Linked DNA regions of Homo sapiens. The protein of the gene in region 1 purifies or fractionates together with the protein of each later gene. This does not show direct contact. Each region holds a gene or a part of one and is shown in the gene's direction. Other genes may lie near its edges. The genes, in order: HAUS2, SDE2, NEMF, PRRC2C, TRIOBP, ACSF3 and SQOR.

Evidence for each region.
Region 2: the proteins of HAUS2 (region 1) and SDE2 purify together in Homo sapiens (affinity purification with mass spectrometry, with the first as the bait; one large-scale study listed by BioGRID). This does not show direct contact.
Region 3: the proteins of HAUS2 (region 1) and NEMF purify together in Homo sapiens (affinity purification with mass spectrometry; one large-scale study listed by BioGRID and IntAct). This does not show direct contact.
Region 4: the proteins of HAUS2 (region 1) and PRRC2C purify together in Homo sapiens (affinity purification with mass spectrometry, with the first as the bait; one large-scale study listed by BioGRID). This does not show direct contact.
Region 5: the proteins of HAUS2 (region 1) and TRIOBP purify together in Homo sapiens (affinity purification with mass spectrometry; one large-scale study listed by BioGRID and IntAct). This does not show direct contact.
Region 6: the proteins of HAUS2 (region 1) and ACSF3 purify together in Homo sapiens (affinity purification with mass spectrometry; one large-scale study listed by BioGRID and IntAct). This does not show direct contact.
Region 7: the proteins of HAUS2 (region 1) and SQOR purify together in Homo sapiens (affinity purification with mass spectrometry; one large-scale study listed by BioGRID and IntAct). This does not show direct contact.

Annotation. Positions count from the first base shown.
Region 1 is NC_000015.10:42,555,338-42,558,837, forward strand, and holds part of HAUS2 (HAUS augmin-like complex subunit 2), read left to right. Parts: intron 1-2,860; coding exon 2,861-2,953; intron 2,954-3,500.
Region 2 is NC_000001.11:225,996,544-226,000,641, reverse strand, and holds the start of SDE2 (splicing regulator SDE2), read left to right. Parts: upstream 1-1,298; 5' UTR 1,299-1,329; coding exon 1,330-1,449; intron 1,450-4,098. UniProt on the Homo sapiens protein: Inhibits translesion DNA synthesis by preventing monoubiquitination of PCNA, this is necessary to counteract damage due to ultraviolet light-induced replication stress.
Region 3 is NC_000014.9:49,793,789-49,797,288, reverse strand, and holds part of NEMF (ribosome quality control complex subunit NEMF), read left to right. Parts: intron 1-960; exon of another isoform or gene 961-1,056; intron 1,057-1,344; coding exon 1,345-1,498; intron 1,499-3,500. UniProt on the Homo sapiens protein: Key component of the ribosome quality control complex (RQC), a ribosome-associated complex that mediates the extraction of incompletely synthesized nascent chains from stalled ribosomes as well as their ubiquitin-mediated proteasomal degradation.
Region 4 is NC_000001.11:171,492,030-171,495,529, forward strand, and holds part of PRRC2C (protein PRRC2C), read left to right. Parts: intron 1-3,500. UniProt on the Homo sapiens protein: Required for efficient formation of stress granules.
Region 5 is NC_000022.11:37,700,048-37,703,547, forward strand, and holds part of TRIOBP (TRIO and F-actin-binding protein), read left to right. Parts: intron 1-1,258; 5' UTR 1,259-1,318; coding exon 1,319-1,432; intron 1,433-3,500.
Region 6 is NC_000016.10:89,114,352-89,117,851, forward strand, and holds part of ACSF3 (malonate--CoA ligase ACSF3, mitochondrial isoform 1 precursor), read left to right. Parts: coding exon 1-136; intron 137-2,638; exon of another isoform or gene 2,639-2,735; intron 2,736-3,500. UniProt on the Homo sapiens protein: Catalyzes the initial reaction in intramitochondrial fatty acid synthesis, by activating malonate and methylmalonate, but not acetate, into their respective CoA thioester. May have some preference toward very-long-chain substrates.
Region 7 is NC_000015.10:45,676,529-45,680,028, forward strand, and holds part of SQOR (sulfide:quinone oxidoreductase, mitochondrial), read left to right. Parts: intron 1-3,500. UniProt on the Homo sapiens protein: Catalyzes the oxidation of hydrogen sulfide with the help of a quinone, such as ubiquinone-10, giving rise to thiosulfate and ultimately to sulfane (molecular sulfur) atoms.

The DNA of each region.
Region 1 (3,500 bases):
CAGGCTGGTCTCAAACTCCTGGGCTCAAGCAGTTCTCCTGCTTTAGCCTTCCAGAGTGCTGGGATTACAGGTGTGAGCCATCATGCCAGCCTGTATTTCTAAATAAGTATTATGTATGATTATATTACTTCTTCACCAGAAAATGTTCAGTTGCTCCCATTTTCTGCAGTATGATTGTTGAGCATAGCACTCAGGATCATCTATGATTATGTTGGAGACTATGTTTTCAGCTACATCTTACCCCTCTTTTCACATATATGCTAACACTGGTGGTTATTGAGCATTTGTAATGTTTTTGATCTTTCTATCTAGAATACCTTTTTCTTCCCATCCATTATGAGCCTCATGAGGGTAGAGAGCTTGTTTCACTCATATTTGAATATTTCGTTGACTAACTCAGTAAGTGTTCATAAAATTGATTATTTTTGGACAGTAAACTTTTACTATGAAGAGCCAGAGAGTAAATATGTAAGGCTTTGTGGGCCATATGGTTGCAGCTACACAACTAGGTGGTTGTATAAAAGCAGCCAGAGATAGTGTGTAAATGGATGAGAGAAGTCATGTTCCAATAAAACTTTATTTCTGGACCATGAAATTTGAATTTCAGATCATTTTCTTTTCTTTTTTAAGACGGAGTTTCGCTCTGTCACCCAGGCTGGAGTGCAGTGGCGCGATCTCGGCTCACTGCAACCTCTGCCTCCCAGGTTCAAGCAATTCTCCTGCCTCAGCCTCCCAAACTAGCTGACTAGCTGGGATTACAGGCGCCTGCCACCACGCCTGGCTAATTTTTTTTTTTTTTTTTTGAATAGAGACAGAGTTTCACCATGTTGGCCAGGCTGGTCTCAAACTCCTGACCTCAGGTAATCCACTTGCCATGGCCTCCCAAAATGTTGGGATTACAGGTGTGAGCCACTGCGCCCAGGCTTTTTTTTTTTTTTTTTTTTTTTGAGACAGGGTCTCACTCTGTCGCCCAGACTAGAGTGCAGTGGCAATCTCAGCTCACCACAACCTTGTCTCCTAAGCTCAAGCAATTCTCCTGCCTCAGCCTCCCGAGTAGCTGGGATTACAGGTGTGCACCACTCCTGCCTGGCTAATTTTTGTATTTTTAGTAGAGACGGGGTTTCACCATGTTGTCCAGGCTGGTCTTGAACTCCTGACCTCAAATGATCTACCCACCTCGGCCTCCAAAGTTCGGGATTACGGGCATGAGCCACTGTGCCCAGCCTGTTATAAAATATTGTCTTTGATTTTCTTTTTCCCAACAATTTGAAAATATAAAAACCATGCCTGGTTCACAGGCTGTACAAAAACAGGTAATGGGCTGCATTTATTTCATGGACTATAGTTTTCCAGTCCCTGGCCTATCTGATCTCTAAAGTTCTTTGGCCTGGACGCGGTGGCTCACGCCTGTAATCTGGGCACTCTGGGAGGCTGAGGCGGGTGGATCACCTGAGGTCAGCAGTTCTAGACCAGCCAGGCCAACATGGTGAAACCCCAACTGTACTAAAAATACAAAAAAAAAAAAAAAAATTAGCTGGGCATGGTGGCAGTAATCCCAAAAACTCCCAGCTACTTGGGAAGCTGTAATCCCAGCTATTTGGGAAGCTAAGGCAGGAGAATCAGTTGAATGCAAGAGGCAGAGGTTGCAGTGAGCAGAGATGTTGCCATTGTGCTCCAGCCTGGGTGACAAGAGCGAAACTCAGTCGGTGGCTCACGCCTGTAATCGCAGCATTTTGGGAGGCCTAGGTGGGCAGATCATGAGGTCAGGAGATCGAGACCATCCTGGCTAACACAGTGAAACCCCGTCTCTACTAAAAAATACAAAAAAATTAGCCGGGCATGGTGGTGGGCGCCTGTAGTCCCAGCTACTCGGGAGGCTGAGGCAGGAGAATGGCATGAACCCAGGAGGCAGAGCTTGCAGTGAGCCGAGATTGCACCACTGCACTCCAACCTGTGCGACAGAGTGAGACTCCATTTAAAAATATATATATTATATATAATATATATTTTATATATAATATATATTTTATATATATTATATATTTTATATATAATATATATTTTATATATACATTATATAATGTATACATTGTATATAATGTATATTATATATAATATATACATTGTATATAATGTATATTATATATAATATATACATTGTATATAATGTATATATTATATATATATGAAGTTCTTTGCTGTGCTAGCATTCTAGAAAGCAAGATGATAGAGAAAATTATGGATGAAGTCTAGGAATGCACAAGATAATACTCAATTCTGAGATAATGTGCATGGACTCATGGAATGAAAGGATGAAAAAGAAGGGGTAACCTTTTTAAAAGAATAATTATGCCTGGATACAAATAATCCTTTAACTAAAAGATGAGAATGTGAACATACACAGTATGAATGACTTGTAGGCAACTGAGGTCATTTAACGAATCAGATAAATAATTCCATGAAGGCGAAAATATTTGATTTCAACCCCGGAAGCTCTGAGAGACTGGGCCTGAGTCATTTGGAAAGGTAGAGGTGATTCTCCAACAAATTTAGCCTTTGAATCCTTTGATAAACTATCAGTAATACAAATCTATTTTGTATGGTACCTTAGGAAATAATACAAAGGGAGTGTGTTGTTTGTTTCTCTTATTTTTTTTTTAAATATTTGAGCAAGTGATTTGTGATGGTGAAGGTTCTAAAACAGGAATTACACATTGCTACTATTTTACTTTGTACTTCATGTTCAAAGGCAGTGTTGAACATAATATTTTCTCATATTTTAGACTATGGGCATGCTATTCCAATGTACCTAGAAACTTTTTGTGACATTCTGCTACTTTCCTTATTCATTTACCAATAGGAGATGTTAAACATGTCTAAGAAAACAGTTTCTTGTTTTGTGAACTTCACCAGACTACAGCAGATCACAAATATTCAAGCTGAAATCTACCAGGTAAATCATTTTGTTTTCACTTTCTTTTTTTTTTTTTTTTTTTTTTTTGAGACGGAGTCTTGCTCTGTCACGCAGGCTGGAGGCTGGAGTGCAGTGGCACAATCTCGGCTCACTGCAAACTCCGCCTCCCAGGTTCACGCCGTTCTTCTGCCTCAGCCTCATGAGTAGGTGGGACTACAGGCGCCCGCCACCATGCCCGGCTAATTTTTTGTACTTTTAGTAGAGATGGGGTTTCACCATGTTAGCCAGGATGGTCTCGATCTCCTGACCCCATGATCTGCCCGCCTCGGCCTCCCAAAGTGCTGGGATTACAGGTGTGAGCCACTGCGCCCGGCCTGAACTTTTCACTTTCTACTCCTAGTATAGGAAAACAAAAACAAAAGTTGGCCAGATGTAGTGGCTCACACCTATAATCCTCGCACTTTGGGAGGCCAAGGTGGGAGGACTGCTTGAGCCCAGGAGTTTGAGACCAGTGTGGGCAACACAGGGAGATCCCGTCTCTACAAAAAATTTTAAAAGTAACCAGACATGGTGGCACACACCTGTA
Region 2 (4,098 bases), on another chromosome or scaffold:
AACTCCTGACCTCGAGATCCGCCCGCCTCAGTCTCCCAAAGTGCTGGATTACAGGCATGAGCCACCGCGCCCGGCCAGTACAATCTATCTTTATTATTTTTTTTTTTGTAATTTTTATTTATCTACTGGCATCCCCATGGAGGCCCTTTCTCTCCCCAACTTTCCCTCGTGTGTGAAATAAAGACCACTGAATCTATTAACTTCCCAGGCCTTGAAATTCCATTTTCGCACATACTGCCACCGCTAAACGATTTCTGAATTTTTTGTTGTTACCCCCTCAGCTAGGAGTTCCATTTGCCAAGCATTTTAACAGCAGAGAAGGCAATTCTGTGGGCCGATGCATTTGTGTTTAGCAGGCACAGATATCTCCAAATAACCTTCCTATCTTCACACTGGTGGCTTTTGAATTGTTCAGGGTTTTAGAAATACCATAATCTCATTCTGTTAAATATTAAGGGACTCTTTCGGATTCCCTGAGCCTTAAGGTTACGTTATGCAAATCTGTCCGAGTGTGTTTCCATGGTGCAGAATAAAAGTTATGGTAGGGTTTTTTGAAGCAGCATGACTATAAACGTCACTCCTGTCACTGCCTTTCACAAGAGCCCACTTGCTGTGAAATATTTTGAAAACAGAGCTGAAGTGGAGATAACGCAGTGCACAAACAGGCGGAAATAAGAATAAACCGTGCGTGGCAGGCAGAAACCCGGAGGTTGGCTGTTTCTGGAGGGGAAGAGAAGGCTCTGTAAAGCTGGAGGAGAAACCACGCCGGCCACTGTTTAGGGGCCTCCTGGGGGTCGTTTCCCTTGCCCCCTCGGGTTGGGGAGCTCCTCTAGGCCAAGGAAGCGGCCCCCTAAAACCGCTTCCGGGACTGCAGCTTCTCTCCCCACACTCTCAAGGAGCAGAGCCTTCTCGGGCCACAATTCTCCGCGACCCAAAAATAACTACACAGATGTGAGGAAAAGGGCCAAAGCCTACAGCACAAGGTGGTTCTCAGTTAAAGCCTTATCGCTTACGGCCAGGAAGCTCGAAACCTAACCCAGCGCCAGCCTTTTATAGCCGGTCCCTCGAGCCCCGCCCTAGCAACTTCTCCTAGCAACGCCTCGCCCCGTGCTCTGCCGCCTTATCTGCCTCCGCCAGGCCTTTCCTGTTCCCCTCCCCCAGCCCGCACCGCCCCGCCGCCCGGCTCACTTGACCCGCCCCAGGGGAGGGGAGGGGTGAACGGAAGCGTGAGGGGCGGGGCGTTGGAAGATGCTCGCGTCATCAAGAGGCGCCGGGCGAGTTGCGGCGCCTGGTGTCTCAGAGAGGCTTGAGGTTCGGGTAGTCGGTGACATGGCGGAGGCCGCGGCGCTGGTGTGGATTCGCGGCCCTGGCTTCGGGTGCAAGGCGGTGCGGTGTGCCTCGGGTCGGTGCACCGTCCGGGATTTTATCCACCGGCACTGCCAAGATCAGGTGAGGATTTCGGTTCCTGTTAGGAAGGAGAAAGAGGCAGACAGGTGGCAGCGCTGGGTGCGGAGTAGGTCTGTCCGGGGCGGGGGTACGTTTATTCTCTGGGGTTTTCACTCGTTGAGGCTGAGAGTTCCTCAGTGTTAAGGTGCTTCGAATTGTTACTGAGACCTTCCTTTGCTTTTCTTTTGTGGTGGTGGTTTTGCCTTCCCACCAAGAGGGAGAAAAAAACTGTTACAGGCACTTAGTCCCGCTCACAGTTACAAATACTTTGTTTCTCTTTCTTTATCCGTAAATATAATGGTCTTCTGGCAGTTGGGCCGGCTGATTTTTAAGGCTCCAGTCTTCACCTTCTTACTATGGTTATGTGACGTGTATTTTGTCCACTCATCACACAGCCTTGTTAGCCCCAGCCTAGAGAAGTATGTCATATCCAAACCCAGGCCAAAGGATGATTGGGAAGGAAAATTGATTCTTCTGGTCAGTCGTTGTGACCAAGCATTCACACGTGTGTCCTGTTGAGGGCCTGGGTTCTTAGGGCCTGTTACGTAGAAGTGTTCACTATTAATTTGATGGTCTCATTTGTCCGTGCATATTTGTGAAAACCTACCAGGGACTTCCAGAGTTACACGTGAGCTTTTACTGAACTTTCAAGTAAGTAAGCTTTTACCAGCTATAAGATATTAAACCTGTTCAGTTGTCAAAAGAATTTAGTGGTTTCCCTGAATCTAATTTTAATGTTGGCACTTGATCTAGAACTCTGTTCTTTCCGCACCTCATCCGTGCTTTCCTCGGCTATTTCCTCTGCTTACTATTTATAAGCTTAACAAATGTTAACACTGCAGTCTAGACCAAAATTTTAAGAGACTTGGATCGATTCCGTGAAGAAGCAATGTGTGTTTGCAAATAATACGGTTTTTCACTTTCCATGTTTTCCTTCCTGCTCTGTAATCCAGTCTAAAAACTGTAAGCACAACTGTTTTTGACCATGAAAATAATTGCATTCTAATTCCTTTGAAAATAATTCTTATTTCATGAGTACAGTGTTCTTTTCTCCCCCTCCCCCACCCCCGACGGAGTTTGACTCCCGTTGCCCGGGCTGGAGTGCAATGGCGTGATCTCGGCCCACTGCAACCTCCGCCTCGCTGAGTTCAAGCGGTTCTCCTGCCTCAGCCTCCCAAATAGCTGGGATTGCAGTCGCCCGCCACCATGCCTGGCTAATTTTTGTATTTTTAGTAGAGACGGGGTTTCACCACGTTGGCCAGGTCTTGAACTCCTGACCTCGGGTGATCCGCCCACCTCAGCCTCACAAAGTGCTGGGATTACAGGCTTGAGCCACTCCTCCCGGCCTATGAGTACAGTTTTCAAACTTGCTGACAATTGATCCAAAGTGAAACCAGAAAAAATAGGATCTTAATCATGAGGTATGTTGGAAAAAAGAATTTTTAAATCGGAAGCAAGAAATATAGGCCAGGCGTGGTGGCTCACGCCTGTAATTCCAACACTTAGGGAGGTCGAGGCGGGCAGATCACCTGAGGTCAGAAGTTCGAGACCAGCTTGGCAACATGGTGAAACCCCATCTCTCCTAAAAATACACAAAAATTAGCCAGGCGTGGCGGCAGACGCCTGTAATCCCAGCTACCCAGGAGGCTGAAGCAGAAGAATCATTTGAACCTGAGAGGTGGAGGTTGCAGTGAGCCGAGATTGAGCCATTGCACTCCAAACTGGGTGACAGAGCAAGACTCGGTCTGAAAAAGTATATATAAAGAAATATAAATGAGTGGATTCAGTCAGAAACTTAAGGAACATGACCATAGCAAATATGAATAGAAACACAAAAGAATATTAGTTGAGATACTGGAACAAGTAAGAATAGCTCAAGTTCACACCTATGTTTTTAAAAACAAAACTATTCTGAGACATGATGAAGTTAGTGTTAACTCCCACTGAGAAAATAAAAATCTGCCCTGCTTTTCATCAGGCTGGGATAACAGACACAGATAAAGCCAGCTGCAAAGTTTTTGTTTTTTGTTTTTGTTTCCCCCACACTACACCGATGTACAGCTGCAGAGTTAACAGGAAATGGTGATGTGTCATAATGTCATAACGACCCCCACGAAGGTCTGCTGCTTTCTTATTCACTGAGAAACCTTGGTCTCAAAAACCATAGAATATATAAGAAATTTTGCTGTTTAAAGTTCTCTCAATAAGAGGGAACCTTCCCACTCTTGCCTTGTAGAGAAGCATTCTTGATTTCCAACCCAGGTCAGAGCTTCCCATTAAGGGTTTCTGGACACAACTTTCCACATTTATCTTAAATTTGTAGTTTCCAAGGAAAGAGGAGCCTTCACAATCCAGATCTGATGTTGACGTTTTTATATACAGTCCTGCTTTATTTTGAACCTTTTTAAACACTGCTTGATGTAAATTTCACCTCAACTCCACCCTAGCCCCAAATCTTGTAATGACACTCCTTTCTTTGGGTTGGTGAGATACCCATGACTCCTGGTGTGCAGTTCCCCTCGTTGCAGTGAATCAGTAAGTTTGACAGGTTTATCTCTGATAGCCTTAGGCTGGTTGTGCTAAAACACACATGATAATTTGTGTTTGAAGCACTTTACAATGCACAAATGGTTAAAAGCAGTTAAATTGAGT
Region 3 (3,500 bases), on another chromosome or scaffold:
AGGGAAGGGAACAACTACTGTAGGGTGGGAAAGACTAAGCAAACTAAAGCACTCCAGGAAGAGGCCCTAGAACAGAATGGACAATAAAGCCTTTTCATTTGAGAAACATAATCATTGAACAATTACAGAGAATTCTGAGCACATAGCCCTGTGCTAGATACTTACTGAGTATACAAAGAGGTGAAGTATAAAGCTCATGCCTTCAAGAAGCTTTTGAGTCCTGGATTCAGGAAGTAGTCATAAATATGTAAATAGTGTCTGAAAGTGATAAAGTAGTTCAAGAGTAAGAGATTGCTGTGAGTTCAGATGTTTGGGGAAATAACATCAGAAGTATACCTTGAAAGATATGTTAGCAGTTAAGTAAATGAAGGAGGGAGACTCCAAGGAGAATTAGCATTAACAAAGGGGAGTGCTTCTTTGGGGTAATATGCATAGTGCTTTGGGGAAATGATAAATAGACTGAGTTGGAAGGAAGAGAAAGTTTGTGTATTAAATGGTAGATAATATGATTGGAGAAGTAAATTTGGACTAAAAGTGGAGTACTTAAAAGCTAAGGATTTTGGACTATACCCTTTAAAGTGATACGAAGAGAATGTGACATAGGCAAATGATTAAGGAAGATTAATATAGAAGTTAATGGCCGGATGTGGTGGCTCACGCCTATAATCCCAGCACTTTGGGAGGCCAAGGCGAATAGATCACCTGAGGTCAGAAGTTTGAGACCAGCCTGACCAACATGGTGAAACCCCATATCTACTAAAAATACAAAGTTAACTGGGTGTGGTGGCACAAACTCCGTTTTAAAAAAAAAAAATTCAGAGTATGTAGACTCTGGAGGAAGTCTGGGTGGGATGTAATGAGGACCTGAACTAAGACGTTGGCATTGGGAACAGAAAGAAGAATACCACAGTAATAAAATTTACCCTTCCTTCTTAACCTGTGTATTTTTAATCCATTTAGTCAACCAACCGGTCAACAGATGTTTTATTGAATGCCTAAGACCTGCCAATGCTATGTTGGTACAAAGACTACAAATCCCAGTGCCTGGCCATCAAGGTGATCAGGGGCAAAATGTGCCTAGTGAGTAAGGATGAGTCAGGGGTGACAATATGTTGAGCTTGGATGATGGAAAGAAAGATAAATCCATGAGAGATGAAAAACTTGCATCTTTTTCCCACATGATGATTTTAAGCATCTTTGTATTTTCTAACTTGGTGATTATCAAGTGAAGCAGAAGCCATGACCATTTATATACTGTATATGTGCCTTCCCCATGGAACTTTTTTAGGGCACTAAGAATTTCAAATTCTAAGAATGAAATGTTTTCATGTCTTTTTTATTCAGGGAAATGAAAAAGAAAAAACTTCCAAGTGACTCAGGAGATTTAGAAGCGTTAGAGGGAAAGGATAAAGAAAAAGAAAGTACTGTACACATTGAAACTCATCAGAACACAAGCAAAAATGTTGCGGCTGTGCAGCCAATGAAACGAGGACAAAAGGTAAACTTCAGGATGATCTATATGGTTCACAGTTAATTTGTGAGGTTCCTTTTTAATTTTTTAAAGTTGAAGTGAAATAGAAAATGTAGGCCAAAAAATAATCCTGTGTGATTTCCTTTGACTAAAAATTAGTTGAGTAGATACAGCATTTAGGGAACACAGAGATCACTATTAGAAGTTCTTTAGACTTTCAAGATCATCTGCACAGAAGCTCTCATTTTATCTGGAAGAGTAATAGGAGATTATGGCTTGCCAAAGTCACCCAGCTAGTTAAGTAGCAGAGCTGATATTTATTGAGAATTTAGCTCAGTAATTTTTAGATTTTGGTTAGAGTTCTTAGATATTTTGCTAAAGGTGGATGGTGAAGAAAGAAGTACTTATGATAGAACATACTCTTTCCACACTGCCCCTGCCCCCACCTCCCCACCCCCCAACCCCGCTGTCAGCTCCCCCAAGATAGTCTTGCTCTGTCACCCACGCTGGAATGCAGTGGTGCAGTCAGGGCTCACTGCACTAGCCTTAACTCCTAGGCTCAAGTGATCCTCCCATCTCAGTCTTCCAAGTAGCTGGGACCGCACAGGTGCATGCCACCATGCTCAGCTAAATTTTTTTATTTTTTGTAACGATGGGGTCTAACTATATTGTCTGGGCTGGTCTCAAACTCCCAGGCTCAAGTGATCTTCCTGCCTCACCCTCCCAAAGTGCTTGTAACTAGAGGTGTGTTAGCCACCATGTCTGGTTATGATATAATACACTCTTCAAAATGCTGTAGCAGCCAGGCACAGTGGCTCATGCGTGTAATCTCAGCACTTTGGGAGGCTGAGGCAGGTGGATCACTTGAGGCCAGGAGTTCAAGACCAGCCTATCCAACATGGTGAACCCTATCTCTACTAAATATAGAAAAATTAGCCAGGCATGGTGGTACATGCCTATAGTCCCAGCTACTCGAGAGGCTGAGGCAGAAGAATTGCTTGAACCCAGGAGGCGGAGGTTGCAGTGAGCCAAGATCACGCCACTGCACCGCAGCCTGGGTGACATGGCGAGACTCGCCTGTCTCAAAAAAAAAAAAAAAGCTGTAGCAGTATAAAAATGAGGGGATTATGGGCTAATTTATCAGTGTACCCCTTTTAAAATTTAAATTTCTTTTCAATTTTTTTTTTTTTTTTTTTTTAGAGACAGGGTCTTGCTCTGTTGCCCAGGCTGGAGTGTAGTGGCTATTTACAGGCATGTTTGTAGCATACTACAGCTTTGAACTCCTGGGCTCACGCATTCCTCCTACCTCAGCCTCCTAAGTAGCTGGGACCACAAGTGCATGCCACCACACTAGGCTATAATCTTTATAAAGATGTTTTATGATCTTTCCTTCTTCCATACAGGTCAGATTTTCCTATGCTTTTTTCCAGTGAGCTGCAAATGACATGTGCATAAGGAAGGGAAGACTCAACCTAATAAAAATATAAATTCCCCTCATATGTAAATTCAACATGACTTTAATCAGAATTGAGATTTTAATGCTTGATAAAATAATTGTAAATTTATTTTGGAAGGAGTAATGCTTGAGAATAGCTAAGGAAATAAGGAGGGATTTCCCTATGAGGTAGTAAAATATTTAATGCTAGAATTTTTACAACAGCATGTTATTAACATAGGAATAGCTAGACAGAAAAAAATGAGACAGAATAAAATCTAGACAGAGGACCACTACCTGATATTTAGCATTTTAGTACGTGATAAAATAATATTGTAGATCATTTGAGAAGATATGAAATATTCAAAATGATGGCTAACCATGTGAAAACGGTACCACAGTGAATTGCAGGTGGAGAAAGTAAAGAACCACCAGTAAAATTAAAAAACAAATGACAAATCTGGAAAAAAAAAAAAGTGATGACAGAAATGCTGTGTAAACCTGGGGAATTTTTTTTACCCATCAAATTAATAGATACTACATTGTCAGTTTGAGTGTACAACATGGGAATTCCAGTCAAAAGTCTTAACAGTG
Region 4 (3,500 bases), on another chromosome or scaffold:
TTTTGAAAACAGAGGACATTGAAAACAAAGGAGGCTTTAGACAGGTGAATTTTAAGTTTATATTTGGAAATTTGATTTGTGGTGTACAGTTCTTTAAGTTTTAGTACGTATGGATTTTTGTAGCCCCCACAACTAGGATACAGAATGTAGAAAGATAAAACATCTCCCAACTGTAGAACTAGAGTCTTCTGGCATTTTGGAGACAGGGAAATTCTCTTGAAGAAATAACTATTAAAGAGGGATGGAAAAAGCCAAGAATGGCCTACCCATGCTGAATGATTTGTTTTCTGATTAGAAAGAAAAAATATTTTGATTATACTGTTATATTTATGACAAACTTGAACATAGAAAGAATGAAAGTAGGAGAAAGAAAAAGAAGGAGTTGGGTGTTGTGGCATGTGCCTGTGGTCTTAGCTACTTGGAAGGCTGAGGTGGAAGGATCTCTTGAGCCCAGGAGTTGTGGAGGGTAGCGCACTGTGTTCTACATATGGACTGAGTGTCTGCACTAAATTCAGCATCAATAGGGTGTCCTGGGAGTGGGGGACTAACAGGTTGCCTGAGGAGGGGTGAACTGGTCCAGGTTGGCAACAGAGCAGGTTAAAACTCCCATGCTGATCAGTAGTGGGATAGCCATTGCACTCCGGCCTGGACAACATTAAGGTGACCCTGTTTCTTATTAAAAGCAAGAGGGTAGGGGAATTTTTTTAATTTTATTTATTTATTTATTTATTTATTTATTTAGAGACAGAGTCTCTCTCTGTCGCCCAGGCTGGAGGCAGTGGTGCGATCTTGGCTCACTGCAACCTCTGCCTCCCAGGTTCAAGCAATTCTTCTGCCTCAGCAGCCCGAGTAGCTGGGATTACAGGTGTGTACCAGCACACCTGGCTAATCTTTGTATTTTTAGTAGAGATGGGGTTTCACCGTGTTGGCCAGGCTGGTCCTGAACTGACCTCAAATGATCCACCTGCCTCGCCCTCCCAAAGTGCTGGGATTACAAGGCGTGAGCCACTGCGCCTGGCCGGGGAATTTAAATAAAATAAAATAAAATAATAAAAGAAGAGAAGGAAGGAAATAGGTTTACATGTCTTAAGACTGGATATTTCAGTGGTAGAAGAAGAGGGCCAATGATACGGAGGGATGTTAACCAATTCTCTACACTTAATAAATTTAAAATTAATATTCTGACTTTTAAAGGCAACCCTTTGGTCCTCCAAAAGATTAACCATAATTCATAATGCTAGATGAGCATCTTGGAGCAAGTACTTCTCTTTCACTCTCATAACATTCAACATACTTTGGCCTTGCAAAAAACAAAGTTCAATTAACTGGATGGGGTGGCATGTACTTGTAGTCCTAGCTCCTCAGAAGGGTGAGGTAGGAGGATCACTTGAGCTCAAGTTCAGGGTTGCAAAGTGATGGCACTGCTGCACTCCAGCATGGGTGACAGAGTAAAACTGTTGAAAAGGAAAATAATAAATAAAGGTTGACTAAGAAATTATCTATGCTTTGGGCCTGAAGCGATGGCTCACCCTGTAATCCCAGCACTTTGGGAGGCCAAGGTGGGTGGATTACTTGAGGTCAGGAATTTGACACCAGCCTGGCCAACATGGTGAAACCCCATCTCTACTAAAAATACAAAAATTAGTCAGTTGTGGTGGCAGGCGCCTGTAACCCCAGCTACTCAGGAGGCTGAGGCTGGAGAATTGCTTGAGCCTGGGAGGCGGAGATCCTACCACTGCACTCTAGCCTGGGCAACAGAGCAAGACTCTGTCTCAAAAAAAAAGAGAAGAAATTATCTATGCTTGGGTTTTTCTTTTTAATATATTAGTTTTGCAAATATTGATTACCACTTAATAAGTTTTTGTTACAGGCTTTACACTATTCTAAGAGCTTTATACACACTTTGTTAATTAAATCTTATAATAGTATTGGAGTAGATATTATAGCCCACCCAGGTGAGGAAGTAAAAAATTTGAGATTAAGTAATTTGCCTGTGGTCACCTAGCTACTAAATATTAGAGCTAGAATTTAAACAAAAACAGTTTTAAGAGAAACAGTTGTGTAATTTTAACAATTTTAAAATACATAAGTTGTTAAAAAGAATGCCCTGGCAATCACCTCATTAAGTAATCGGTAGACAGAACAGCTGTACTTTTTAAGGACAGCAGTTTTTAGTACAGAAAATTTGATAGCTACATTTCTGTTCTGATTGTTAAGGCTTTATCCTACTCCGGAAACTTAATTCACATGTTTCAGTTTCCAGGAACAGCCTGAGCCCTTCCACTATCCTGATTAGAACTCCAGCAGATTTATTTATATTACACTTTGTTTTTTAAAAAATGACCATTTTGGATGTTTTTGCCGAACTGCTATTTGTAGTAAAAGAATTCAACATATGGTGGTATTCTTAGCTTTACTATTATAGTGGCAAATGTACTCTTAAAATATTTGACCTTAGAATTACTAGTTCATTTTAACTACTAGAAATGGAAGAGACCTTGTAAGTGGCCAATTCAACTTCTTACTCAAAGCAAGAATTATCTTTATAATATTTCTGACAGGCTTACCTTGCTTTTGCTTGGATCCATCTGATGATTAGTAGGTTACTACAGTCACCCCTTAACATTCACAAAGCATATGTCCTAAGATCTTACAAATTTCCGTATTTAGCATTCAAACCTCTTCACTTTCGCCTTCCGTGATCTACACTAGGATTTGGCCTCCTCTTCACTGCTCTTCCCCACCCTGCCCCCCTCCCTCAAGAAAGAAACAGATTTCTCTTTGTAAGAGTTATTGTATCCCCTAAAAGAAAACAAAGCTCTGGGCCTGGGGTCTCAGCATTAGGAGTGGTGAGGGATATCCAAGCTTATTTTCTAGATGCATACCTCATGGCATGTTAGTTACATTTTGTGCTTTAGCAAAATTACACGTCATTTCACAGCTCTTTGGGTTATTTGGCAAATTGTTAAAGTAATGCTATAAGTTTTAGTTTAATGTAACTTACTCACTTATGGATAAACTGAACAGTTTTTCCTTTGCATTCAGTCGTTTGTTAATGTTTGTCTTCATGAAGCCTGGAGTTGAGCATAATACTCTAAACATACTGTGACAAACATAAAATTCAGTGGAACTGTTATGACTCCAAATCTGTGCATTAGATTTCTATTAAAATTTTATAAAGCAGTATTGTCACACTACTAGCTGTCACAGCTAGAACCTTTTTCACATGACAGTCTGGGTCTGTATTCTGCATTTATGAAATCCAGTTTCTGAACTGTTAATATGACTGTATAACTAATTGTTTAATTCTGCCTAGCATTCTAAGACCTTTAAAAATCTTGGTCATGGAATACATTGGTACTCCTTCAGATGTATATATTATTTCATATGCCATGTTTACTTTCCAAGTCTTTATTCAAGTTATTGACATGGAAAAGGACAGGGTCCAACATATCCAGGCCAAATTATTTCATATTGACCACATTCTTTTAAATATAAAA
Region 5 (3,500 bases), on another chromosome or scaffold:
TTTGTATTTAGTAGAGGCGGGGTTTCACCATGTTGGCCAGGCTGGTCTTGAACTCCTGGCCTCAAGTGATCTGCCTGCCTCAGCCTCCCAAAGTGCTGGGATTACAGGCGTGAGCCACCGCCCTCGGCTGGAATCACTTCTTTAACATGCACAGCCCCAGACCTCAGTCTCTTGGAGATTCTAACTGTGTGAATTGGGAGAGAGAAAGGGGAATCTAGATTTTTTTTTTTTTTTTTTGAGATGTGGTCTTGCTATGTTGCCTAGGCTGGAGTGCTGTAACTATTCACAGGTGCAGTTATAGCACACTACCACCTCAAACTCCTGGGCTCAAGAGATCCTCCCACCTCTGCCTCCCGAGTAGCTTGGACTGCAGGTGCACACCATCTTACCCAGCTGAAATCTGCTTTTTTTTTTTCTCAGTGCAGTGGCACAGTCATGGCTCACTGCAGCCTCGACCTCCCAGACTCAGGTGATCCTCCCAACTTCAGCCTCCTGAGTAGCAGGGACCACAGGCCTGCACCACCTTGCCCAGCTAATTTTTGTATTTTTTGTAGAGACGGAGTTTCGCCAGTTGCCCAGGATGGTCTTGAACTCTTGGGCTCAAATGATCCGCCGCCCGCAATGGGCCCAGCTGGAATCTGCATTTTTTTGTTTTTTGTTTTGAGATGAAGTCTCACTCTGTCGCCCAGGCTGGAGTGCAATGGCGCAATCTTGGCTCACTGCAACCTCCGCCTCCTGGGTTCAAGCCATTCTCCTGCCTCAGGCTCCCAAGTAGCTGGGATTACAGGCACGTGCCATCACACTTGGCTGATTTTTGTATTTTTAGTAGAGACAGGGTTTTACCATATTGGCCAGGCTGGTCTCGAACTCCTGACCTCAAGTGATCGGCCCACCTCGGCCTCCCAAAGTGCTGGGATTACAGGCATCAGCCACTGTGCCTGGCCTGGTATCTGCATTTTTATGAACAGCCCAGGAGGGTGTAATGCAGAGTCCTTGGCGTGCACTTTCAGCAACACTGCAGTAAGGACTAGAAATCGCACATCAAATGCTGGCAGAGTGCCTGGTGCTTAGTAGGTGCTTAGTGAGTGTTTGTTGAGTGAATAAATGAACAGGAATGGATGGAGAACAGGAACCCAAAGGAATGGATGAGTAACCTTATTTCCTTGGTCCTTGTCTGGAAACTGGGGCAACTGGGGCTGGGGTTCAGGTGAGTGGCCAGCCAGTCATCTGGTCTTTGCCTCCCCCTCATTTTTGCCAGGCCTCACATAGACGGTCAGCCATTGGATCATAGGAACTGCCCTGGCCTGACTCACCCAATATGGAGGAGGTGCCTGGGGATGCCCTGTGTGAACACTTTGAGGCCAACATACTTACCCAGAACCGCTGTCAAAACTGCTTCCACCCTGAGGAGGCCCATGGAGCAAGATACCAGGTGGGCCAGTTTTCCACGTGGTTGGGGTGGTTTGTGATGGGGGCATGGGTGAAGGACTGGGCCTGTGGTGTCCGCTAACTCGCAGTTGAACCCAGATGCTGGACTTCCTCCTGTCGAGAGCCTCGGTTTTCCCACATTGCAGGGAAGTGGTTGAACCATGTGAATGTTTCACAATCTTCAGTCACTTTCCTCCTGCTTATATGATACGATTGTTACCATAGCCTTATCTAATCTGTTACTTACTTTGTTATTCTTTAAATCAACATCTTTTTCCCCTTCTATTGAAACAAAACTTCACATCATCAACACAAGTAGAAAACTAGAATTACTTCCTGTTAAGAAGAAGAGGTTAAGAAGAAAGGTAGAGGCTGGGCACGGTGGCTCACGCCTGTAATCCCAGCACTTTGGGAGGCCGAGGTGGGTGGATCACCCGAGGTCGGGAGTTTGAAACCAGCCTGGCCAACATGGTGAAAATTAGCTGGGCATGGTGGTGCATGCCTGTAATCCCAGCTACTTGGGAGGCTGAGGCAGGAGAATCACTTGAACCTGGGAGGCGGAGATTGTGGTGAGCCGAGATCGCGCCATTGCACTCCAGCCTGGGCAACAGAATGAAACTGTCTCAAAAAACAAAACAAAACAAAACAAAAAAGAGAAGAAAGGTAGAAAAAGAAAAAACAAAACAGAAATGTCGTTACACCCTAACTTGAGAGTGTTTTCTTTTTCTTTTTCTTTTTTTTGAGACAGAGTCTCACTCTGTCGCCTGGGCTAGAGTGCAATGGCAATGGTGTGATCTCAGCTCACTGCAATCTCTGCCTCCTAGGTTCAAGCGATCCTCCCGCCTCAGCCTCCCAAGTATTGGGATTACAGGTGCCTGCCACCATGCCCAGCTAATTTTTGTATTTTTAGTAGAAACGGGGTTTCGCCATATTGGCCAGGCTGGTCTTAAACTCCTGACCTCAGGTGATCCACCCGCCTCAGCCTCCCAAAGTGTTGGGATTACAGGCGTGAGCCACCGCGCCTGGCCTCGAGAGTGTTTTCTATGGAAGGCTCTGAGCTTGCATCCTGCTGTCTCTTTGTCAAAAAGGGAGATTAGCAGATGTTAGAGAGATGTTAAGAATACACCAGCATCATCTAGAGATTTTCTTTCTCTCTCTCTTTTTTTTTTTTTTTTTTTTTTTTGGAGATAGGGTCTTGCTCTGTAGCACAGGCTGGAGTGCAGTGGTCCAACCTATAGTACATGGCTCACTGTAGCCTCGACCTCCCAGGCTCAAATGATCTTCCCACCTTGGCCTCCTGAGTAGCAGGGACTACAGGCACATGCCACCATGGCCAGCTAATTTTCTTGTAAAGATGGGATCTCACTATGTTGCCAGGGCTGGTCTCAAATTCCTGGGCTCAGGTGATCCTCCCACCTCAACCTCTGTAACTGCAGGGATTACAGGTGTGAGACACTGCACCTGGTCTCAAGATTTTCTTCTTCAAGTTATTGAAGGAGTGAAGAAGAATCCTTTTTTTTCTTTCTTTTTTTTTCATTTGAGACGGAGTCTCTCTCTGTCGCCAGGCTAGAGTTCAGTGGCTCAATCTCAGCTCACTGCAACCTCCGTCTCCTGGGTTCAAGCAATTCTCCTGCCTCAGCCTCCTGAGTACCTGGGATTACAGGTGCCCACCACCATGCCCAGCTAATTTTTGTATCTTTAGTAGAGACAGGGTTTCACCATGTTGGTCAGTCTGGTCTCGAACTCCTGACCTTGTGATCTGTCTGCCTCGGCTTCCCAAAGTGCTGGGATTACAGGTGTGAGCCACCGCGCCTGGCCGAGATTTTCTTCTTCAAGTTATTGAAGGAGTGAAGAAGAGTCCTTTTCTGACTTTGTGATTGATGTAGTCTGCTGCCAAGCCCCCATGCATGTAAACACAGAGCACCTGATACACACGCAATGAGAAACCTGGGACTCACGAACCTCCGAGGGCCCTTCCAACCTTGACCACCATGGCTTCGTCATTCCCATTGGGGTCTGAAGGTCCTCTTTTTTTTTTTTTTTTTTTGAGACAGAGTCTCGTTCTGTTGCCC
Region 6 (3,500 bases), on another chromosome or scaffold:
GGCTCAGCTGCCCTGCCCCTCCCAGTGCTGGAGAAGTGGAAGAACATCACGGGCCACACCCTGCTGGAGCGGTATGGCATGACCGAGATCGGCATGGCTCTGTCCGGGCCCCTGACCACTGCCGTGCGCCTGCCAGGTACGAGCACTTCCCACAGCTGCGTTCCTCTTCCACTGTGCTCTGAGCCCCCCAAGGTGGGCCAGTCTCGAACCACCCACATTCGGACTGAAGGGCGGCATGGAGGATGCTCCCCCGTGGGACAGGCCACTCGGCCAGGAGAGCACTCAGGATGCACTGCGACCTGTCCCCTCTGGGTAGATCAGCCTTCTCCCAAGTCTCAGTCGGGTGGATGGGGGAGGTGTCTGTGCTGGCCCCTGGCTGTATGACTGGGGAGACAATGGGAAGAACAGCAATGCCTGGAATGCAGGCGTCAGTGCATGTCTCAGAGGAAGGCGGGGGGCCATGCTGTTGGCTCCAGACCACATCAGCAGTGGTGGCAGCCTCCGTCTGTCTGGAGTCCGGGTGCCACACAGCGCCAGCAGCAGTGCCAGGAGAGGTGGGTGTGGTGGGCAGGGTGGGATGAGTCAAGCACCTGTCTTCCTTCTCTAGATGTGGGCTCCTGATACCGGGCCCCTCTTGTCCAGCCTTCCCTAACACATCCCATTCTGACTTTCATCTGACCCAACCATTTGAGCCCTGGGTCCTCCGCTGGGACTTCTGGGAACAGAGCCCACAGCTGGGGGGCCACCCTGCTGCTTTCTGCGCAGCCCTTCCAGTCTGTCTAGAGTAGAAGAGAGATCTCAGTGCAGACTTAAAGTGAGACCATCCCGCACATCTGTCTGTGCAGCTGCTTACCTGCAGACCCAGTAAAAATTCACCCCTCTGGCGTGCAGCTCTGTGTGTCTTAAGAAACATCATCACAGTCAAAATAGAGAAGGGTTCCTCGCCTCAGAAACTCCCTTCCTAGTGCTCAGCACCTCCTCCACCCCCGAGGCCTGGCCCCTTGTTCCTGTTTCTCTTCTTGTGGTTTTGCTTTTTCTGGGAGGCCACGTGGCTAAATCCTGCAGGACGTGGCCTCTGAGCCTGTCTGCTTCCGCCCGGCTTCCGCCCACAGTCAACTGCCTGTGCTGTGTGCGTCAGAGCCCGCGCCTTTCCCTGCTGAGTGGCATCCGTGGTGTGGGTGCGGCACCGCTTGTGACCCTGTTTTAAGCAATGACACGTGAGATGTTATCAACATTTGTGTGCAGGTTTCTGTGCGAACGTGGTTTTTTATTTCACCTGGGCAGATACCTAGGAGAGAGATTGCTGTGTTGTCTGAAGCTTTCAAGCTGTTCTCCAGAGCGGCTACACCATCCCCTTCCCCCTGCAATGGGTGGGAGGTCACGAGCACCTGCTGCTCCAGCGGGCGGTGGTGGTGTCTCGTTGAGTTCATGATTCTCTCATGATGGGTGGCGTTGAGCACCTCTTCCTGTTCGTGTCATTCCGTTTTCAACTGGGGCCTTTGTTTTCTTGAGTTTTGAGAGCTTTTAAAATTCGGGACCCAAGTGTCAGCTGTGCGATTTTAAATATCATCTCCCAGCTTGTGGTTTGTCTTCCCATTCACCTAACAGCGTCTTTAAAATCAGGAGTTTTAGGTTTTGGCCCGGTTTATCAATTTGTTTTGTGAATTGTCTGATGTCATATCTAATAAATCCTTGCGTAGCCCAAAGTCACAGAGAATAGTTTCAGCTCTTACGTTTGGGACCATGATCCATTTTGAGTTAATGTTTGTACATAGTGCGAGATACGGACCACAGTTCTTTTTTAGTGTGTGAATGTCTAACTTTTTAGCACTGTTCGTTGAAAAGACTCCCTTCTCCATCGAACAGCCCTTTGGATCTTTGTTGAAAGTCCGTCGACTCCTGAGGGGTCGGCTCCTGGGCTCTGCTCTGTCCCATTGCTTTCCGTGTGCCCTTTGGCTCATTCCATGCCTGCTTGGTTCCTGGGACTCTAGGGTAAGCGTGGACATGGGGGTTCAGGCCCAGGCAGGGACCAGCTGGTGCCAGGCAGCGATACGGTGCTGGGGCCTGCAAGGTGAGTGTGAGGGCTGGCTGGCTGCTGGGCTGGGAGGAGGAGAGACTGTAGGCTCACGCCCCTTTGCTGGGCCTGGGGAGCCATGGGGGCTGTTAAGTGTATTCTGAGTGTAAAGTCTCGGTTTGGCTGGGGCATCCTGAGCAGAATGACAGGGCCATGGCAGCGAGATCCTCAGCTGCCGTGCAGAGCTGCCAGTGGGGTGGCCGCACAGAGTGCAGTGCCTGCTGCAACAGTGCCCAGGGCAGTGGGCGGGTGGGGGCATGTTGTGAAAAGAAGTCAGTGTGAGTGATGAGAAATACATCCTAGTCTCAGACCCCAGGAAACCGCCGTCAGTGCTGGTGGCCCCTGCCCTGGGCCGGCTCCCGCGTTAGTCTCAGACCCCAGGAAACCTCCACCTCCGTCAGTGCTAGCGGCCCCTGCTCTGGGCTGACTCGCGCATCTCCACGATGGCTGCGGCACCAGCTGTTTCTTCGGTGGCTAAAGCTCTCTGGTGGAAATAAGATGGGGACCTTGAAATCAAATGTGACTGGTCTGTTGAGTCTCTGTCCTTATCGTTGTCCTTCTTAGTAGGATGTGCTGGTTTTGTCCAGTGCCACCGGCCACAGTCACCACGTAATATGGACGGAATGAGCAAAGCCCGGCTCGCTGAGGCTGCAGGCTGCAGGCAAGTGAGGACTGAAAGGGTAACGGGCTCTGGGCTTTGTCCTCTCTTTGTTCCGGACATGTGAGCAGGACAAGTTCTGTGTATTCAGAATCTGTCTGCACAGTTTGTAGTTCATGATGACTGTTCATCCACAGCATTGCTTTGTGGGCGTCCTCTCTTTTGATCTTCTCGAAACAGCCCCTGCGATGGGGTCATATTTTGCACTCACATACAAGAACCCATGAGCCTGCCCACGGTCACGCGGCTGGTGAGTGATGCACTTCCCAGGAGCACGGTGACCTCTTCAATGGCCCTCACTAGAGAAGATGGACAGTGCCCCCCTAGCCTTTTTTACTGGAACAGATACAAGGCTGAGAAGCTGAAATCAGGAGCAGCCCAGGGACCACTGTCTACACCGAGGGAGTCATGAGCAGCCCAGGGACCACTGTCTACACCCAGGGAGTCAGGAGCAGCCCGGGGACTGCTGTCTACACCGAGGATGTCAGGAGCAGCCCAGGGACCACTGTCTACACTGAGAGCGTCAGGAGCAGCCCAGGGACCGCCGTCCACACCAAGAGCGCCAAGGAGCAGCCCAGGGACCGCCGTCCACACCGAGGGCGCCAAGGAGCAGATAGTAGCCCAGAGACCCAGGGGAGGCTCAGCTTCCCCACGCTGGAATCAGAACTCCTAGGCGAACAGGAAGGAGCCCCAGACAGATGGCACAGGGAGAGGAGTCCCCGGCTGAGGAGGGGGATCCAGAGACCCTGAAGCTTCAGGGTTATTGGG
Region 7 (3,500 bases), 3.1 Mb from region 1:
GTTAGCTGGTGCCAAGTGAATTTTTGTCCTATTCCTTTGACTCAACTTTTCCTGGCATCGAGTCACTTGAGGTAGCCAAAAATATTCCACAACTTTGGTTACTGTGTAGAGGTAAGGGAGGGCTTCCTCGAATGCAAGATCTGGTGATTGTCTCAATTGGTGGCATGTGAGAAACAGTCCTGCTTGTGAGCAGGAAGTAACCCTGTGGGTAGTTGAAGAAAACAGGGATTGGCTGGGCATGGTGGCTCACGCCTGTAATCCCAGCACTTTGGAAGGCCAAGGCAGGTGGATCACTTGAGGTCAGGAGTTCGAGACCAGGCTGGCCAACATGGTGAAGCCCCATCTCTACTAAAAATACAAAAATTAGCTGGGCGTGGTGGCACATCCCTGTAATCCCAGCTACCCGGGAGGCTGAGGCAGGAGAATCGCTGGAACCCAGAAGGCGGAGGCTGCAGTGAGCCGAGATTGTACCACTGCACTCCAGCCTGGGTGACAGAGTGAGACTCCGTCTAAAAAAAAAAAAAAAAAGAAATAATCTCAAACTTAGAGAAGTTACAAAATAAAAATAGTACAAAGAAAATTGTATGTAGCTTTTACCTAGATTCACTTGTAGAATTTTACCATTTGCTTTAGCTTTATCATTTGATTTCTTCCTTCCTTCCTTCCTTCCTTCTTTCCTTTCTTTCTTTCTCTCTTTCTTCTATCTGCCTTTGTCTATCTATCTATCCATCCATATCTAGTTTTTCCAAGGAAATTTACATATATCATGCATCAGCTCTCTTTAGCCCCAAATACTTTAGTGTTAATTTTCTAAAATAGAAGTGTTCTCTTACATAACCACAGTACCATTATCAACTCAGGAAATTTAGCACAGATACAATTTTTTAACTTACTATTTGTATTCCAATTTAGTTGATTGGCCCAACTGTGTTTGTAGCATTTTTTCCTCCAGTGCAGGACTCAGGCTACAGTCAGGTATTACATTCAATTGTGAGGTCTATTTAGCCTCCTTTAATCTGTGATGTTTCTATAGCTTTTCTTTGTCTTCTATGACGTTGATATTTTGAAATAATACAGCCCTCTCCCCCACCACTTTTCTTTCAGTAGAATGTTCCTCATTTTGAGTTTGTCAGTGTTTTCTTGTGATTAGTTTCAGGCTTTGATATGTATTTATTTATTTATTTATTTTTGAGACGAAGTCTCGCTGTGTTACCCAGGCTGGAGTGCAGTGGTGCAATCTCAGCTCACTGCAGCCTCTGCTTCCCAGGTTCAAGCGATTCTCTTGCCTCAGCTTCATGAGTAGCTGGGACTACAGGTGTGCACCACCATGCCCGGCTAATTTTTTTATTTTTTATTTTTAGTAGCGGCGAGGTTTCACCATGTTGGCCAGGCTGGTCTCGAACTGCTGACCTCAAGCCATCCACCTGCTCGGCCTCCTGAAGTGCTGGGATTACAGGCATGAGCCATCGCACCTGGCCTCAGGCTCTGTTTGTTAGACTGGAACATTGCATAAGCATTGTGCCATTCTAAGGTATCACATTTGCAAGCATACAGTGTTCATCTGCCCTTCATTGGTGATGTTAATTTTGATCAGCAGTCAAGATGTGGTCCAGTTTTTCCAGGGGATAATTACAATTTGTTTTCTCCCTTGCTACTAATAAGAAGTCTGTGGGAAGACACTTTAAAACCATGTAAATAGTCTACTCATTCAAGTCTCCCCACTAGAGTTAGCATCCATTGATGATCCTTGCCTAATCAAATCTTTACTATGGTGGTTGCAAAATGGTGATTTGCTAACTGTGACATTTCCTGCACATTTACCAGTAAGCTCTTGGCATTCTTTCAGCGAGAGTCTTTGCTTCTTAGTTAATTAACTATTGGTATGAACTCATGAGTTCCTATATTTTTTCTTACAGTGTTATCATTCATTATTGTTTTTAATTATTATGGTGCTCAAATTGTTTTGGATTTGGTCAGTAGATTTCCCTTCCAGCTGGCTCTTGTGTCCCTGTGACATGCCCCATCATGTGTTTGAGCACTTCCTTTACTTTCTGGTGTCACAGGTTGTCCCAGGCTCATCTAGTATCTATCTGCAGCAGCTCAGGGTCATCATTTTGAATAGCTCCTGTGTAGTTATGCACACAGAGGCTACTGGAATGTTTGGAGCTAGTTATCACTTTATAAAAGGGTCTCAAATTACTGCTGTTTGTTTTTTGTGTGTCCTTTTTGTAGTTTTCCTTTTTCCTGGCTGTCAGGCCGTTGTTAGTGACTTTGGGAGGTCCCTCCAGCTTTAGCTTTTTTAAATTGCTGCTCCTCAAATGGCCTCACTCAAATGGGCTATGAGTGAGAGCTCATATGAGTGAACTCATTTTTACTTTACAAAAGAGCCCATTTGAGAGAGTCCGTTTGAGTGAGCCCAAGTTGGGCTTTCACTAAAATGAGCTATGAGTAAGAGCCCGAAGCATCCTTTTATGAGCAAAGTGTATGAACTTGAGTGCATGAACTTAACTTTGTTAGTACTTCGTTTCCCAGCTGTCCTCTGGATAGCTGAGGTTGTAGGTAGGGGTGTGGATAAATGAATGGTTATTATTCTTCTAAGGGGTTTGTAATTAAAGAAGATATTTGTGTCCCCTTTGAATTATAGGATTTCAGGTCAGATATTTAGTTCCACTCTTAAAATCTGAATTTCAAAAAATCCACCAGAAGGATGTAAAGCTGTGGCTCTTAACCCTGGCTACATATTAGGGAGCTTTTAAAATGTGCTGATGCCTGGCCTCTTTATAAGAGGTTTTAATTAATTGGTTTGGGGTGCAGATTGAGGATGGGGAGTTTCAAAAATTCCCCTAATGACTAATGTTCAACCAGGATTGAAAACAACTGGTGTGAAGAATTGGGCCGGACGTGGTGGCTCAAGTCTATAATCCCAGCACTTTGGGAGGCCGAGGCGGGTGGATCACGAAGTCAGGAGTTTGAGACCTGCCTGGCCAAGATGGTGAAACCTGTATCTACTGAAAATACAAAAATTAGCCGGGCATGGTGGCAGGAGCCTGTAATCCCAGCTACTTGGGAGGCTGAGGCAGAGAATTGCTTGAACCTGGGAGGCGGAGGAACTAGAAGACACTTTGGAGATTGTCTAGTCTAGTGCATTTCTTTATGGATAAGCAAACTAAAGACCAAAGAGATGAAGTGACTTGTCCAAATAATAGCATTCTATTTTTCTTTGTAAATGAACCTGTTCCTTCAAGCCAGAGATTGTAAGCATGTGATCCACAGATTTTACATATCAGAATCACTAGCAGATTTTAAAGTACAGATTCCCGTGCTTTACCCAGATCTACTAGATTGGGATCTTGGCATGGTGTAGCCTGGGAACCTGTATTTTCCACAAGTCTCCCCAATGCTGCTAATAAACATTAAAGTTTGAAAACCACCACACTGATTGGACTATGTATGTTAATGAAGGAGGACCAAGTTATTTATCCTATACAGTTACAGAAATA